Homo sapiens: one gene and its partners. The protein of the gene in region 3 interacts with the protein of the main gene of each other region in a pairwise test. Each region holds a gene or a part of one and is shown on either strand. Other genes may lie near its edges.

What was found.
Region 1: the proteins of DYNC1I1 (region 3) and RUNDC3B interact in a two-hybrid assay, tested with the Homo sapiens proteins (one large-scale study listed by BioGRID and IntAct).
Region 2: the proteins of DYNC1I1 (region 3) and RAP1GAP interact in a two-hybrid assay, tested with the Homo sapiens proteins (one large-scale study listed by BioGRID and IntAct).
Region 4: the proteins of DYNC1I1 (region 3) and ACADM interact in a two-hybrid assay, tested with the Homo sapiens proteins (one large-scale study listed by BioGRID).

What each region holds. Positions count from the first base shown.
Region 1 is NC_000007.14:87,767,888-87,771,457, reverse strand, and holds part of RUNDC3B (RUN domain-containing protein 3B), read right to left. Parts: intron 878-3,570; coding exon 709-877; intron 1-708.
Region 2 is NC_000001.11:21,613,788-21,617,357, forward strand, and holds part of RAP1GAP (rap1 GTPase-activating protein 1), read right to left. Parts: coding exon 3,519-3,570; intron 303-3,518; coding exon 199-302; intron 1-198. UniProt on the Homo sapiens protein: GTPase activator for the nuclear Ras-related regulatory protein RAP-1A (KREV-1), converting it to the putatively inactive GDP-bound state.
Region 3 is NC_000007.14:96,038,021-96,041,590, forward strand, and holds part of DYNC1I1 (cytoplasmic dynein 1 intermediate chain 1), read left to right. Parts: intron 1-1,256; coding exon 1,257-1,401; intron 1,402-3,570. UniProt on the Homo sapiens protein: Acts as one of several non-catalytic accessory components of the cytoplasmic dynein 1 complex that are thought to be involved in linking dynein to cargos and to adapter proteins that regulate dynein function.
Region 4 is NC_000001.11:75,738,209-75,741,778, forward strand, and holds part of ACADM (medium-chain specific acyl-CoA dehydrogenase, mitochondrial isoform a precursor), read left to right. Parts: intron 1-1,771; coding exon 1,772-1,902; intron 1,903-3,570. UniProt on the Homo sapiens protein: Medium-chain specific acyl-CoA dehydrogenase is one of the acyl-CoA dehydrogenases that catalyze the first step of mitochondrial fatty acid beta-oxidation, an aerobic process breaking down fatty acids into acetyl-CoA and allowing the production of energy from fats.

The DNA of each region.
Region 1 (3,570 bases), 8.3 Mb from region 3:
AAGTTTTCTTCATATGCATTATGCAAATGTTTATAGCTATGTAATTTGGATTTAAAAATATTTTCTAAGCAATAGCTATCTGTATAGATAAAATTATTTATATTTATAAAATTATGACAATTTCCCCACTGCATTTTTAATTTTTTGAATATTTCTATCACTAATTCCATTGGGCTTTCCTTATATATATATATCATCTATGAATAATGATATTAAAAGAAGACAAAAAGAGAAAAATAGAAAATACAGTAAAAAAGTAATGGCTACAAACTCCTTAAAATAATAGAGTTTGTTTTCTTTCTGTTATATACTCCACTTTGCCTACTACAGTGCTTAACACACAAGAGCTGCTAAAATATCTAATTTTCAAAAAATCAGATGTACGTGCTTAGGCAATCACTGCATTTTCACAAACCAATCATCTTTTATAAAATTTATCATAGAAACTAAAATCTCAAATACATAAATTAAGCTGCTTATTAAAATAATGGCTTGTTTTTATGTTAAAACATAAAATTGGAAAAAGTTCAACAAACAAAAGTATCTTCTACAGTTGCCTGATTTTTCATTAAGAGGAGGACAATTCAAAAACAGAAGAGAAGCAGCAATGGATAAATAATTTTATTCAGTTAAAAAATATTTTGGCAGTCACAGTTCAAAGGCAATAACTAGAATAAAATTAAGTACGTTTTGATAATTTTAAAATACCTTCTGTTCCAGGGTAAGCTGATACTTTTGTTTAACTCTCTTACACTTGTTGAACCAACTGTTCTCATCCATGAGGAAAGGAGGTCCGACATTCTCTGGAGTACTGCTTTCGCTACCACTGCTTCCCAAAGTCCTTAGCTCCTCCTCATCACTGCTGATACTATCAGAACTGGGAAGATCAAAATTTTAAAAAAAAGTTAAAAATATGTTCCAACTTGATTCTTAAACACTTTTACATTTGCAAGCTACGGTGAACAAATTCGAAAATATTTAGTACTAAATACAAAATTATAATGATATTATAAAGATTTAAGCTTCCTGAAAAAAAAATGGCAAGTTAGCATGGGCTGCTGACTCCCTCTCGGAAACCAACCCTAGAGATACTACAGAAGTTCAAGTGGGTTTACAGATATAAGGTATTAAGATATAAACCAAGAATGCCCAAAAGAGAGAGAAAAGATTTCCAGAGAAGAGAAACAGAAACTCTAGATGCGCTGGAAACAGCCTTCTAACTGGGTTCCTTTCACTGCCCGAGGTGGATTGCTGCCTGCTCAATCTTCAATACAAGGCAGACAACAGCAGTTCCAGCTAATAACAGTGGGGTATAATACAGGGTAGTGTGTCAAGATCAGCTCAGCTTTAGCAAAGAGAAGATAACAACAGGTTCAGAAGATCCAGTCACTCCTAAGCATTTCCTACTGAGGGGAACAAGGACAAGCAGAGGTAGAGCAGAGAGAACATCTATCACAATCCATATCTAAAATTCCTCAGGATATGACTATAGAACAGAAGCAGAGCATAAGGTGAAAAAAATGGTAGAAGAGAAACTCAATAGAGATAAAAATGTGCTAAGATGATGGTCCAATTTAGAAGAAAAATATTGGTGTTAATTCATGGACACAGGGAGGGGAACATCACACACCGCGGCCTGTTGGCAGTGGGGAGCAAGGGAAGGGAGAGCATTAGGACAAATACCTAATGCATGCAGGGCTTAAAACCTAGATAATGGGTTGATGGGTGCAGCAAACCACCATGGCACATGTATAACTATGTAACAAACCTGCACGTTCTGCACATGTATCCCAGAACTTAAAGTATAATAAAAAAAAAGAAGAAAAATACTGGTGTTAATATACTTAAAAATAAACATGGAAAAATAAAATTTTAAATATGAGCAATTATATTAAAAAATAAGTAGAAGCATAAAAATAGTCTGTATTACCTTGAGAGTATTCAAAGAAACCACAATCTGTCAAATGCAGGAGCAAACAAAACAAAACAAAACAAAAAACAACCAAACCTGCCAAAGAAAATTCAAAACAAAAAAGGAGATGGCAGAAATAAACCCTAGTACAAAAGTAATCACACACAATTTAAATGAGTTAAACTCAATAGCCAAACCCCAGATGTTCAGGTCCAGTTAAGACAATTATATAAGGGGCTGGGCATATTAGCTCATTCCTGTAATACCAGCCCTTTGGGAGGCCAAGGTGGGCGGATCACTTGAGGCCAGAAGTTCAAGACCAGCTTGGGCAACATGGTGAAAACCTGTCTCTACTAAAAATACAAAAAAAAAAAAAAAATAGCTGGGCGTGGTGGCACATGCCTGTAATCCCAGCTACATGGGAGGCTGAGGCATAAGAATCATTTGAACCCAGGAGGTAGAGGTTGCAGTAAGCTGAGATTGTGCCACTGCACTCCAGCCTGGGTGACAGAGAGACTCCGTCTCAAAAAAAAGGAGTGGTGGTGGTTGGACAATAATGAGTGATCTATAAAATACACATGGTTTTTCTAAATATTTGGGATTTCTGATTCTATCATAATTGAAAAAAAAAAAAGAGTTCATTCAACTTTTTCCCAAGATGGCTGACTAGATACATCAGATGCCAGTTCTCCTCAGAAAGCAGATCAAATTTATAGATGAATAATCATAGCCTGAGTGGAAAGTTGAGATAAGAGTGTTGAAACCTGTTGGAGACCATGCAGGAAACAGCTGGGAGGCAGAAAAGGAAGGCAGCAAGAGCCTGGGAGAGACTGACCATTAAGGAACTTGGAGTCCCATAGAAAGGGTAGGTAGGGGCATTTCTTTGCACCCCTCACCAATGTGACAAACTGCTGAGAAGTGAATTGTCAGAGAGCCCCTCTGCCCCTGCAAACCTGGGCAATTCTGCCAATAGTAATCTGGAAACATCCTGTGGGCAGAGCACCAGGTGGTCAGCTTGTGCAGCTGGGCTCACATTGCCCCCAAACCTGAGCTGAAGCAGTGGGTGCGATACTCGTTGTGCAGATTCAGGGAATCTCAGCCCTTGTGTCACTGCATCACCAGATTCCCCACAAACATTTCTCAGAGTCTTCTCTGAATCTGCAACCAGAGGGGACCATCAGGACCCTGGGGAGCTGCAGGATCCCTGGAGATCTAGTCCTCGGTGTGGGCCACTCCTAGGGGAGGGAGAGGTGCAGCCCACCAAAGCACTCACTGGGACAAAGGAACCAGATTGCAACTTCTCTCCTGCCTGAGAACCCCACATTTGTGACAAGATGGGTGACTGTGCCCTTCTCCTGTGCCCTGACCTACTACTGCAGATGCAGCGAAGGCTTTTCCTACTAGAGGTTGACACAGGCACACTTGGAGACAGTACTATTCTCCACTAAAAGTGTGCCTATCACCTGGGCTTAAATAAAGGGTATGACTCACCTCCCTCTCCCTACACAGAGTGGCAACATTCCTGCAATAGAGTACAGATCGCCAGCAGAGTTGTTTGTTTTCGGCTGGGTGAAAAGTTTTCTCCCTTGGGTTATTTTGTTGGTAGTAGACAGACAGGCATTTTCCACAAACCTCAGTTGCATTGTGGCCTAGAGATA
Region 2 (3,570 bases), on a different chromosome or scaffold from region 3:
GAAGGGGGTGGACCACAGCGAGGACCAGAGGTGATGATGGGTGTCAGGCTGACTCGGGTACTAACTTGCTGTGCAACCTCAAGCAAATCCCTGCCCCTCTATGGGCCTTGATGAAGAGAGTGGGTCAAATGAGATGGGCTCTGAGATTGTAAGACCTCAGCCCTTCCTGCCATCTCAGGACTCCCCCACCACCCTCACCTGAGCAGCAGCCGCAGGTGCTCTTGGTCCCCGATGACATCGTACTTGAGTGAGAAGACAAGGTGGCCGAGGGCAGCGTCCAGTGAGTAGTAATTGAAATGCTCCTGCAGTGGGAGGTGGGGGCCAGGGGAGTGGGTGAGGCTGAGCATGGGGCTTTTGGAAACAAGGCCAGAAAGCCAACCCACTCCCAGATGCAGGTCCTTCGCCGATAGCAGGTGTCACGGCTGATAGCAGACCCCACATCAGACAGACCTGCACTCAAAGCCCCACTCTGCCACTGACCAGCTGGGCAGCCTGAGGAGGTCACTTGGCCGCTCTGTGCCTCACTTTCCTAGTCTGCCAAATAGGAGGGAACCCTGTACTTTGGTGGCAGCCAGGACTGAAAGGGATGAAGTGCTTGGCTCAGTTCAGTGAAGGTGGGTAGTAACGCTGGATCTCTGGGTGCTCATCGAGTCTGGACCATATTCGGACCTGCATGCCTGTCTTCAGCCCTGGTCCTTCTCAGGGCTGGGCACCCAGCAGGTGCTCAATGAGCAAAAGCTGATTGCCCAACCTGTGACTCTGTGGCCCCTGAAGCCAGGGCCCATGAGAAACAGGAAGCGAAACATCTCACAACACACAGGGTGGCTGGCCAGGCAGGTTTCCACCCTCCTGTCTCACCTGGAGGAGAGGGCACAGGGTTGGGAAGACACCCTGGGGAGTATCAGGGGTGGCTGCGGCAGGGATGGCACCCCCAGAGAGGAGCCCAGGGCTGGCACCTCCGGGTGGGGAAGTCCCAAAGCCGAGGGCTGGAAGTTCAGGGAGACACCACCCAGCCTGGCCCCGGGCTCCTCCTGCCAACCTCAGCCCCAGCCCTAGCCCAAGTTCTGGGAGTGGAGCTGGCTGCCCGGCCACACCCGCCCCAGGAATCATCCTAGAAGTAAATCCTGTTCAAACATGAACACCTGTGCTCAGAGGCCAGGAGCAGATAGAGGCAGGGACCAGTGAATGTGCCCCACGAATCCGCAGCTCAGGGGCATTCTCAATGGACCTGGGGCAGAGTCCCCCAGCTCTGCCTGGGCACAGAGTGGCAGAAACCCCCAAATGCTTGACATCATCCAGCAGAGAGGGAGTGGCAGGCACTTGATAAGGAGGCCCCTGGCAGGGAAGTCCAGAGAGTGGGGAGGTTCCTTGGACACCCCCAAGCCCAGAGGAGCCCCCGGGACACAGTGGGAGAGCGGGCTCAGGGTCCCAGGAAGTCAACGCCCAAAGTCATCCTAACCTCCCCTCTCTGCCAGGATAGGGCCCAGTGCCTGAGCACCTGGCTGCTTCCCCCATTACCCCACCTGGAGTCAGGAAGGGGCCCTGCCATTCTGCCAGCCCTGGGGCTTCTCCCTCATTACTGCTAATCTGATCCTGGACATGAAGCCTCTTCTTTTTTTTTTGAGATGGAGTCTTGCTCTGTCGCCCAGGCTGGAGTACAGTGGCACCATCTCAGCTCACTGCAATCTCCACCTCCCAGGTTCAAGCGATTCTCCTGCCTCAGCCTCCTGAGTAGCTGGGATTACAGGCGCCCAGCACCACACCTGGCTAATTTTTGTATTTTTGTTAGAGATGGGGTTCTGCCATGTTGCTCAGGCTGGTCTTGAACTTCTGACCTCAAGTGATCTGCCCACCTCGGCCTCCCAAAGTGCTGGGATTACAGGTATAAGCCAGGGCGCCCAGCTGCCTCTTCTGACCCTCCAGTCTGCACTTCTTCAGAGCCTGCTGCACTCGAGGTCCACTACCTTCATCTGTTCCTACCTTCATCTGTCACTTGTCACTCTTTCAACAAACTTTTCTGAGTACCAACCATGTGTTTGGCATATACAGTACCCTCAGATCCTACCACCTGCCAGACCCAGCTGGGAACCTCTGGACAGCAGGTGCCTAGGATGCAGGTCTCGCTCCACCTCTAGGGCTCAGCTGGGAAGTGGAATTCCATGCTGGGTTCTGGGTTTGTTCCCAGGCAAAGGCTCCTGAACCTGGGCTTGCTGGTTTAGTCCCAGTCACAGTGGATCCTCCCCTAACTCCATTGGTTAGCACCGGTGTCTCCCAGAGTTAGGCCAATGGCCAGGCCCAGACTGAGGTCACACATCTTCCGAACCCCCAAGGAGTCACCCCCTCTTCCCAACACACACACACACACACACACACACACACACACACACACACACACACACACACATACAATGACTAGGAGCATGATCTCTCCCATGCACCTTAATGGAAGGTCAGCCAAAGCTGGTTCAATTCCCAGGCTTAGTCATTGTGTGACCTTGACTAAATCATTTACCTATCTGAGCTTCGGTTTCCTCTTCTGCAAAAACAGAATAATCCTGATATCACCAAGTAATTATGAAGACATGAAAACAGCTAACATTAACTGAGTATTTACCATGTGCCAGGTGTGGTTCTAGAAGCTTTGCGTGTACTTTTATTATCCCTGTTTTCACCGACGAGGAAAGTTAAATAACTTGCCCAAGGTCACACAAACAGTTAATGGAAGAGCCAAGATTCCCACACATGCCACGAGGCTCCAGAGCCCACGACACACTTCCCCATTTTGGCTCTATGCTGACGAAGAGACAGCACCCGGCCTGCAACCTGACACACACATTCCCGGCATGGGACCTCCCCTTGGCTCCCACAACACTCTGACAAGTTGTTGCTGGGCAGGGTCCCTGCTCTGTGCTGGTGGTGGGGCAGGGGCTGCATCAACCCATGACATTACTGTTCTCCTAACTCCAAGCTGCCCAAAGGGAGGGCCTGGGTCTATTGTGTTGGCTGCTGTATACCTGGTGCCTAGAACAGGGCCAGGCACACAGCTAGTGCTCATTATTTGCCACCCCTGACTGAGCACTTACTTTGTCCCAGACACCACTGTAAAGACCTTACAGATATCAGCTCACTAAAGCCTCACAGCAACCTCAGGAGGTGGGTATCATTACCACCAACCACCATTTTCACAGATTAGGAAATGAGGCACAGAGAAGTTAAGCGATTTACCCGATGTCCTGTGTAGTGGGTGGCAGAGCCAGGATTCAAGCCCTGGTAGAGTCTCTGCCATGAACCACCATGCCATAATGCTGCCTTTGCAATCAATGTTGAATGAACAAGTGATTCTGCCATGCATGTTCCCTGGGGACTGGGAGTGTGTGTGGTGGGAGCACATTCACTCAGGGCTCTAGGACTGTCACCCAGCCCTGGCCCATGGGTTCTGCTCCCTCCCAGGCCCACCTCGAATGGGGCTGAACTGTGACCCACCCCAGCCAGCCCCGCTGCACCAGCCGGCCACCCACCTTGCCGAGAAAGTGCTTCCGGTAGATGCGGGCTGTGGGGTTGCACTCGAGC
Region 3 (3,570 bases):
AAGAGCAAGTGGAGTCTCACCAGGGGCCACTTCAAAGATCAGTTCCTCGGGTTCATTAGAACAAATTTAAATGATCATGTGTGGAACTGCTCTTAGCAGTTTCACTGGGCATAATTTTTGAGTGCCTGTTACATGGAACACGCACTGCCACACTTTGCTCATGATTCCAAATTTTGCTAAGCACATTGACATTTATTGGTGCTCCAGAGGCCCAAATGTTTTAATAACTGAGCTCGTTTTTATTCTTAGTGACATAATATTAGGATTCTACAATTCCTACATATTTGTCATATTTATAACCTCATGCACATGAATATTTTAAATATAGCATTTTTGGTATGTTTTCTCACATCTTCCTAATTGTATATGATTGCATGCAGAATACTATGTGATAATAGAGGGCTGCAAATAATAACAGCTTAGTTAAATAAGCAAGATATGTCTGTGTGTAATTTTTTAAATGTCTATCATTATTTCTCAAATGTGCTTCTGTTTTAAAAAAGGACTGAGACATAAGTTTGTCTCTTTTTCTTAGCTAGTTTATTCAACAAATATTTATTGAGCACTTACTATATGCCAGACACTTGGCAACAAGAAAGACAAGATACTTGCCCGTATGGGATTTACAGTGGATATGTAAATCTGTCTTCTGTTTTCAGTAAAGAGAAAACATTATTTTCTCCATATTATATTTAAATTATGTGCATTATTTTGTGGTGACAAGGGTTTCCACAAAGTGTTACATTTTCAGCTATGTTAAAGTAATTTAAGAAATTTACTTGAAAAAAATAAATGATTGTTCCTTCAAGGATGGATGGAGTTTTATAGTCAATAGGTTCCCCAAAAGGAGATAAAGCAGACCATGTGCAAAATGCTATCTCAAGAATAAAATAGTCTTATAAATATAAAAGCTTCAGAGACCTAAGTGTATTTGTTTCCATTAAAATAGCTGCATCAGCAATGATAGGCTTTGAGGAATTCTGCAAAAAGAATTAAATAATAAATATTGATATTAAATTCTGTATTTTAAAAAGATTTCATTGCCCTACATTGTTTTTAAATAATGAAAAATAGGGTAACATATTTGCAAACAATTTCTTTCAGGATAACTGTAAAAATGATTTCATTTTGGTGGTGTGTGGTTGTTCTAAATTATGGAGATGCAGAGTTGAGGGTTTTTTGTTTTGTTTTGTTTTTAAGCAATCATTGCTTTTCAGAGGTCACTGGAATTCTGCTCATGTGTGCTCTTCCTACAGCAAAGCAGGTATTGGTGAGGTCTTTGAAGGTCACCAAGGGCCAGTGACAGGAATTAACTGCCACATGGCAGTGGGCCCAATCGACTTTTCTCACCTGTTTGTCACATCATCATTTGACTGGACTGTCAAACTGTGGACCACCAAGGTAAGAATATCTTGACTGAAATTCTCAGATAATACATAAGGGCAGAGGATGGTTTTTCATTCCCTGGAAACAGTTGTCCCTAAAGCCTCTTCCAGGCAACCTGGCATTGGGAATTCATATACCTTCTGGTGAGCTCAGTCTACCTCAGAGCTAGTTAAGTCCATTTTATTTACTTTTACACATATAGGTAATACTTGAAAATATTCTAACTATAAAAAATTCAAACAATTCAAATAATGATAAAGCTGCAGTCCTCCTCTACCTACCCCAACCCCAACCCCATCCACAACACCCCCTTCACTGCCTGCACCTCAGTCCCCTCCCCAGGGGTAAACTTTTATCAGTTTCATGTCTATGTTCTGGAGCTTGGTGGTATCTACTTACTTACATATGTACCTATGGAAATATATGATTTGGGACTTGGGTTTTTTTTTGTTTGGTTCGTTGATTGGTTGTTTATTTTTATTTTGAGCTATTGGAAGTTTTTAAGCTGGTAAATGGCCCTATGTTATGTTTTTAAAGGTAATTCTGGCTGGGAGCTGTGGCTCACATCTGTAATCCCAGCACTTTGGGAGGCCGAGGTGGGTGGATCGCTTGAGGTCAGGAGTTTGAGACCAGCCTGGCCAACATGGTGAAGCCCCATTTCTACTAAAAATAGAAAAATTAGCTACATATGGTGGTACATGCCTGTAGTCCCAGCTACTCTCGAGGCTGAGGCAGGAGAATCACTTGAACCTGTCAGGCAGAGGTTGCAGTGAGCCGAGATTGGGCCACTGCATTCCAGCCTGGGTGACAGAGCCAGACTCCATCTCAAAATTAAAATAAAATAAAATAAAATAAAATAGTAAAATAAAATATAATTCTCTCCATGCTTGAGAGCAAGAAGAAAAGCTGAGACCACTTGGAAGGAAGGCACAATAATCTAGGAAAGAAATGACAGTGACTTAAACCAGTAGTCTGAGATGGAGAGAAATAAATGCATTTGAGAACCATTTAAGAGATAAAAGCCACAGAAACTGGTGATTGATTTGATAGAAGGAAGGTAGGAGAGGGAGTCATCAGCAGATAACCCAGGTTTAAGACCTGGGCAGCTGGTGAGTGTAGCACTCACTGCACTGGAGAACAGCAGGGGAAGGACATGCTGGGGCAGAGCTTTGCATATGTTGAGCTAAAGGTGCCCGGGAGAGGCATTTCAAGATCTCCATTAAGCAGTTTGATATGTGAGTCAGAAGAAGAGAGAGCCCTCCAAACAGAACGTATGCACTAGAATAGCAGTGATCTTCACAAATGAGTAGTTTTTTTTTTTTTTCTTTTTTTTGAAACATAGTCTCGCTCTGTCACCCAGGCTGGAGTGCAATGGCACTATCTTGGCTCACGGCAGCCTCTGCCTCCCAGGTGCAAGTGATTCTCCTGCCTCAACCTCCCTAGCAGCTGGGATTCCACAGCACACACCACCATGCCCACCTAATTTTTGTATTTTTAGTAGAGATGGGGTTTCGCATGTTGGCCAGGCTGGTCTTGAACTCCCAACCTCAAATGATCTGCCCGCCTTGTCCTGCCAAAGTGCTGGGATTACAGGCATGAGCCACCACACCTGGCCCAGCAGTGGATTTTAAAAGAAACACTAACATGCAATCTGGAGGGAGAGCAATACTTAGGAAATAAATAGAAATTGAACTAGAAAAGGGAGATGAAAAAGTAACCCAGGAAATAGAAGACAAATTAGAATTTTCTTTGCAGCTTCATGGGTATTAATGGAAAAAACCATGTTAAGAGGACAGAATTTGCTTTTAACTATATGAAAAGATAACAACCTCATTTATAAGAGAAATTAAAATTAAAACCAAGTTGAGAAACATATTTCCAACTATCAGATTGACAAAAATCTAAGTTTTGCAACATACTCTGTGATGAGGCCGAAAGAAACCAGCTGTTCTCATACATTTCCATTGGAAATGCAAAATGGCTCAACACTGTGGAAGAGGATTTAGCAATATCTAAAAATAATACATGTTTTAACAGAACAATTTCCACTTCTAGGAATCTATGCCAAAGATATACCAGCAAAAATAAGACAGAAGACATATGGAGAAGGACATTCACTGAAAGATTATTTGAATAGCAAAAGAATGAATACAACTCAAAAATCTCTATCAGTACAGTGCTGTG
Region 4 (3,570 bases), on a different chromosome or scaffold from region 3:
CCCAGCCAAGTATTGTTATTATTTTTTTTTTCTGAAATGGAGTCTCGCTCTGTTGCCTAGGCTGGAGTGCAGTGGCACCATCTCGGCTCACTGCAACCTCCACCTCCCAGGTTCAAGCAATTCTTCCTCAGCCTCCCAAGTAGCTGGGATTACAGGCGCCCGCCACCAAGCCTGGCTAAGTTTTTGTATTTTTAGTAGAGACAGGGTTTCACCATGTTGGCCAGGCTGGTCTCGAACTCCTAACCTCAGGTGACCCACCTGCCTCGGCCTCCCAAAGTGCTGGGATTACAAACCTGAAGCCTCAGCCACCACGCCCGGCCCTAAGTAATCATTTCTAGTGCCCCTATATATGCTTACTACTTTGAATTAAAATGTATATAGTTTCTTTCTTTTTTGTTGTATATTTTTAAAAAATAAATTGACATGGGTTCTCGGCATGTTGACCAGGCTGGTCTTGAACTCCTGGTCTCAAGCGATCCTCCCATCTCAGCCTCACAAAATGCTAGGATTACAGGTGGGGGGCCACCATGCTCGGCCCAGTTTCTTTCTTCTTTGGACTGTAAGTACCTTAAGGGCAAGTAACTTGTTTCTTTAGTATCCACAGTACCGGCCACTCTTGAATTAACTTGCACTAACACTTGCCTTCTACCACCCCCTTTTATCCATTACTGCTTGTGTCTTGTCACTCCTCTGTTTAAGAGCTCTAAGAGGCTCCCCTGTTTCTACCAGATAAAATTTTAAATTTGTAATGTGATATAAAAGATTCTCGTCGACCATTTCCTTCCTTTCTTTCCAGACTCATGTCTTACCATTCCCTTACATGCACAGAATTTACATACTGTGGAACTCTGGTACTTTCAGCATTAGAAACACTGGGTAACTCTGTTTCTTATCTTAGTGTCATAGCATATGCCATTACTTGTACCTGGAATGCATATTCTTCCTCTTTTTCCCTCCTCGCAAAGAAGCCATTTTCCTTTTTGAGACTTAATTTAAACATCCTCTGCCCTGGGAAACTAGTTTCTCAAGCCCCTTGTCTGACTTTCACACATAGAGTTGCAGTATAGTTATTTATCTTCACTGTTACATTGTGAAAATCTCTAGGACTGAATGTCTTTTACCTCTGGTTTCCCCATATCCTAATTTACATCGTGGTACATAGTAGATATTCAATACATGTTTGCATGAATGAATACATGTGAAATTGAATTTAATGAACTTGTTTAAAGCTATCTAACATTTTCACTTTTTATTAAATATATGATTTGTTGATATACCTATGCCTAATTTGAATTATATATTAAGTGTTTTTAGGCCAGGCACTGTGGCTCATACCTGTAGTCCCAGCACTTTGGGAGGCTGAGGCAGAGGATTGCCTGAGCCCAGGAGGTTGAGACCAGCCTAGGCAACACAGTGAGATGCCATGTCTACAAAAAATTTAAAATTAGCTGGGCATGGTGATGTGTGCTTGCAGTCTCAGCTATTATACACGGGAGGCTGAGGCGGGAGGATTTCCTGAGTCCAGGAAGCCAAGACTGCATTGAGCCTCTGCATTCCAGCCTGGGCAAGAGAGTGAGACCCTGTCTCTTACAAACAAAACAGAAAAGTTTTTACATTTGAGTGGTTTCTTTGATTTTGTAAGAACATTTTAATTTTAGATATTTAAAAATATTTAAAATACAGCTTAAAAAATAAAACAATCCTGTTTCCAAACAGTCAAAATTTAATCACTAACATTTAATTTCATTTCTCTTGTTTTTATATATTCAAGGCTTATTGTGTAACAGAACCTGGAGCAGGCTCTGATGTAGCTGGTATAAAGACCAAAGCAGAAAAGAAAGGAGATGAGTATATTATTAATGGTCAGAAGATGTGGATAACCAACGGAGGAAAAGCTAATTGGTATGTTGTTCAAAACATCTTTGTATATTTTTTCTTAATTGTTTTATCTTCAAATCTCTCTTTCTTTCTGTATATTTTTAAACCACTACAGTTAAGGTATGTTTGTGGAACTGGAAGGCCTAAAGGAGATTATAAACAGTTCAGTGATTTTCAAAAACTAATTTTAAGCCCCTGCACTGTTTTTTCAAATTAACTCTCAGAAGTTTAATGTGTAAAATAAAATACAAATGCGTGCTCTGTTTGAATCTGATTAGGAAGGCTAGCACTCTGTCTACTTGGCTTATTATCTCCACTCCTCATCTCCTATACCAGCCGCTCCTTGGAATCCCTAAAACCCTAAGGAAAAAGGAGAACCTTTGGTATAGTGCCTGTCTCCAGATGTCAGAAATAAACAGAGTCAGTCTTAAAACAGGTTATCTATTAGAGAAGACAGAATTTGACTTTAATAAAATCTGAAATTTTCTAATATATGGTCAAAAAATATGAAGTTCAACAAAGGATCAAAAATAATTTGTATAAATATAAAATACTAAAAAAAAACACTCGATTATTTGTTGATAAAAGATGAGGAAAGTTCAATAACTGTTAAGTTCAATAAGAATCAATAGTATGAGCCTTTAAAAAGCCAATGTAATTTTAAGCCAAAGTAATAGAAGTACAGCATCAAATAGAGAAAAAATGGTGACAGTTCTGGGCAACACATTTTAAAACATGTATTGAAAAACTTGACTAAATCTAGAAGCATGTAAGTATCTTGCATTAGGAGGAGCCTACAAAACATGTTCTGAAAAGCAAAGCCTTGGTTATTTTGGAAGAATCTTGAAGTTTTTCAAATATTATTACACAGAAAGATGATCAGGCTTATATGTTTACTTCAGGATGCCAGCTTAGAATTAATGAGTGAAAGTTAGAAAAATGTAGAATTTAGCTTAACATAAGGACAGGCTTTCTATCAGCAGTGCTGTTAAGTTGTCATGGGAAATACTGTATTTACCCATCACTACAAGTATATAGAGAGTTTCTAGAATAACTTTTTATTGATTGGAATAATGTACTAAATGACCTGTCTCTCTTTGTAAAAAATTCAGATTCAATATATTTGTGTGCCATATACTACAGTTTTCTAGCAAATAAAACATCATTTTTTTTCAGAGTGAGCCTACTAAAAAGTTACTTAGATTAAACATATCAGTCAATTCCTTATGAGCATCCTAAATATATTCAGTATTATGGAGTGCTATATCTTTACCTTTAACCAATTCCTGGTAATATCAGCAACTAATAAAAAGTGAAGAAACTATTAAAATTTAACAAGTTGAGAGAAATCTAACAATGCAGTTTGAAGTTTTCGTAATTTTAAAAACGGATTAGCCAGGTGCAATCACTCACGTCTACAATCCCAGCAGTTTTGGAGGCTGAGGCAGGAGGATTGCTTGAGCCCAGGGGTTCAAGACCAGCTTGGGCAACATAACGAGACCCCATCTTTACAAAATTAAAACAAAAAGAAAGAACTGATTACAACTGTTCACTGTTCATATAGTAAGGCAAATTAGGTAATATATGAAACCAGATAACAATTTTTACGATTTTGTTACTATTATTAAATAAAACTATAGAATGAGTGGTAATGTATTGGTTTTAACCAAAGAAAATAAGTTTGTGTTGTTT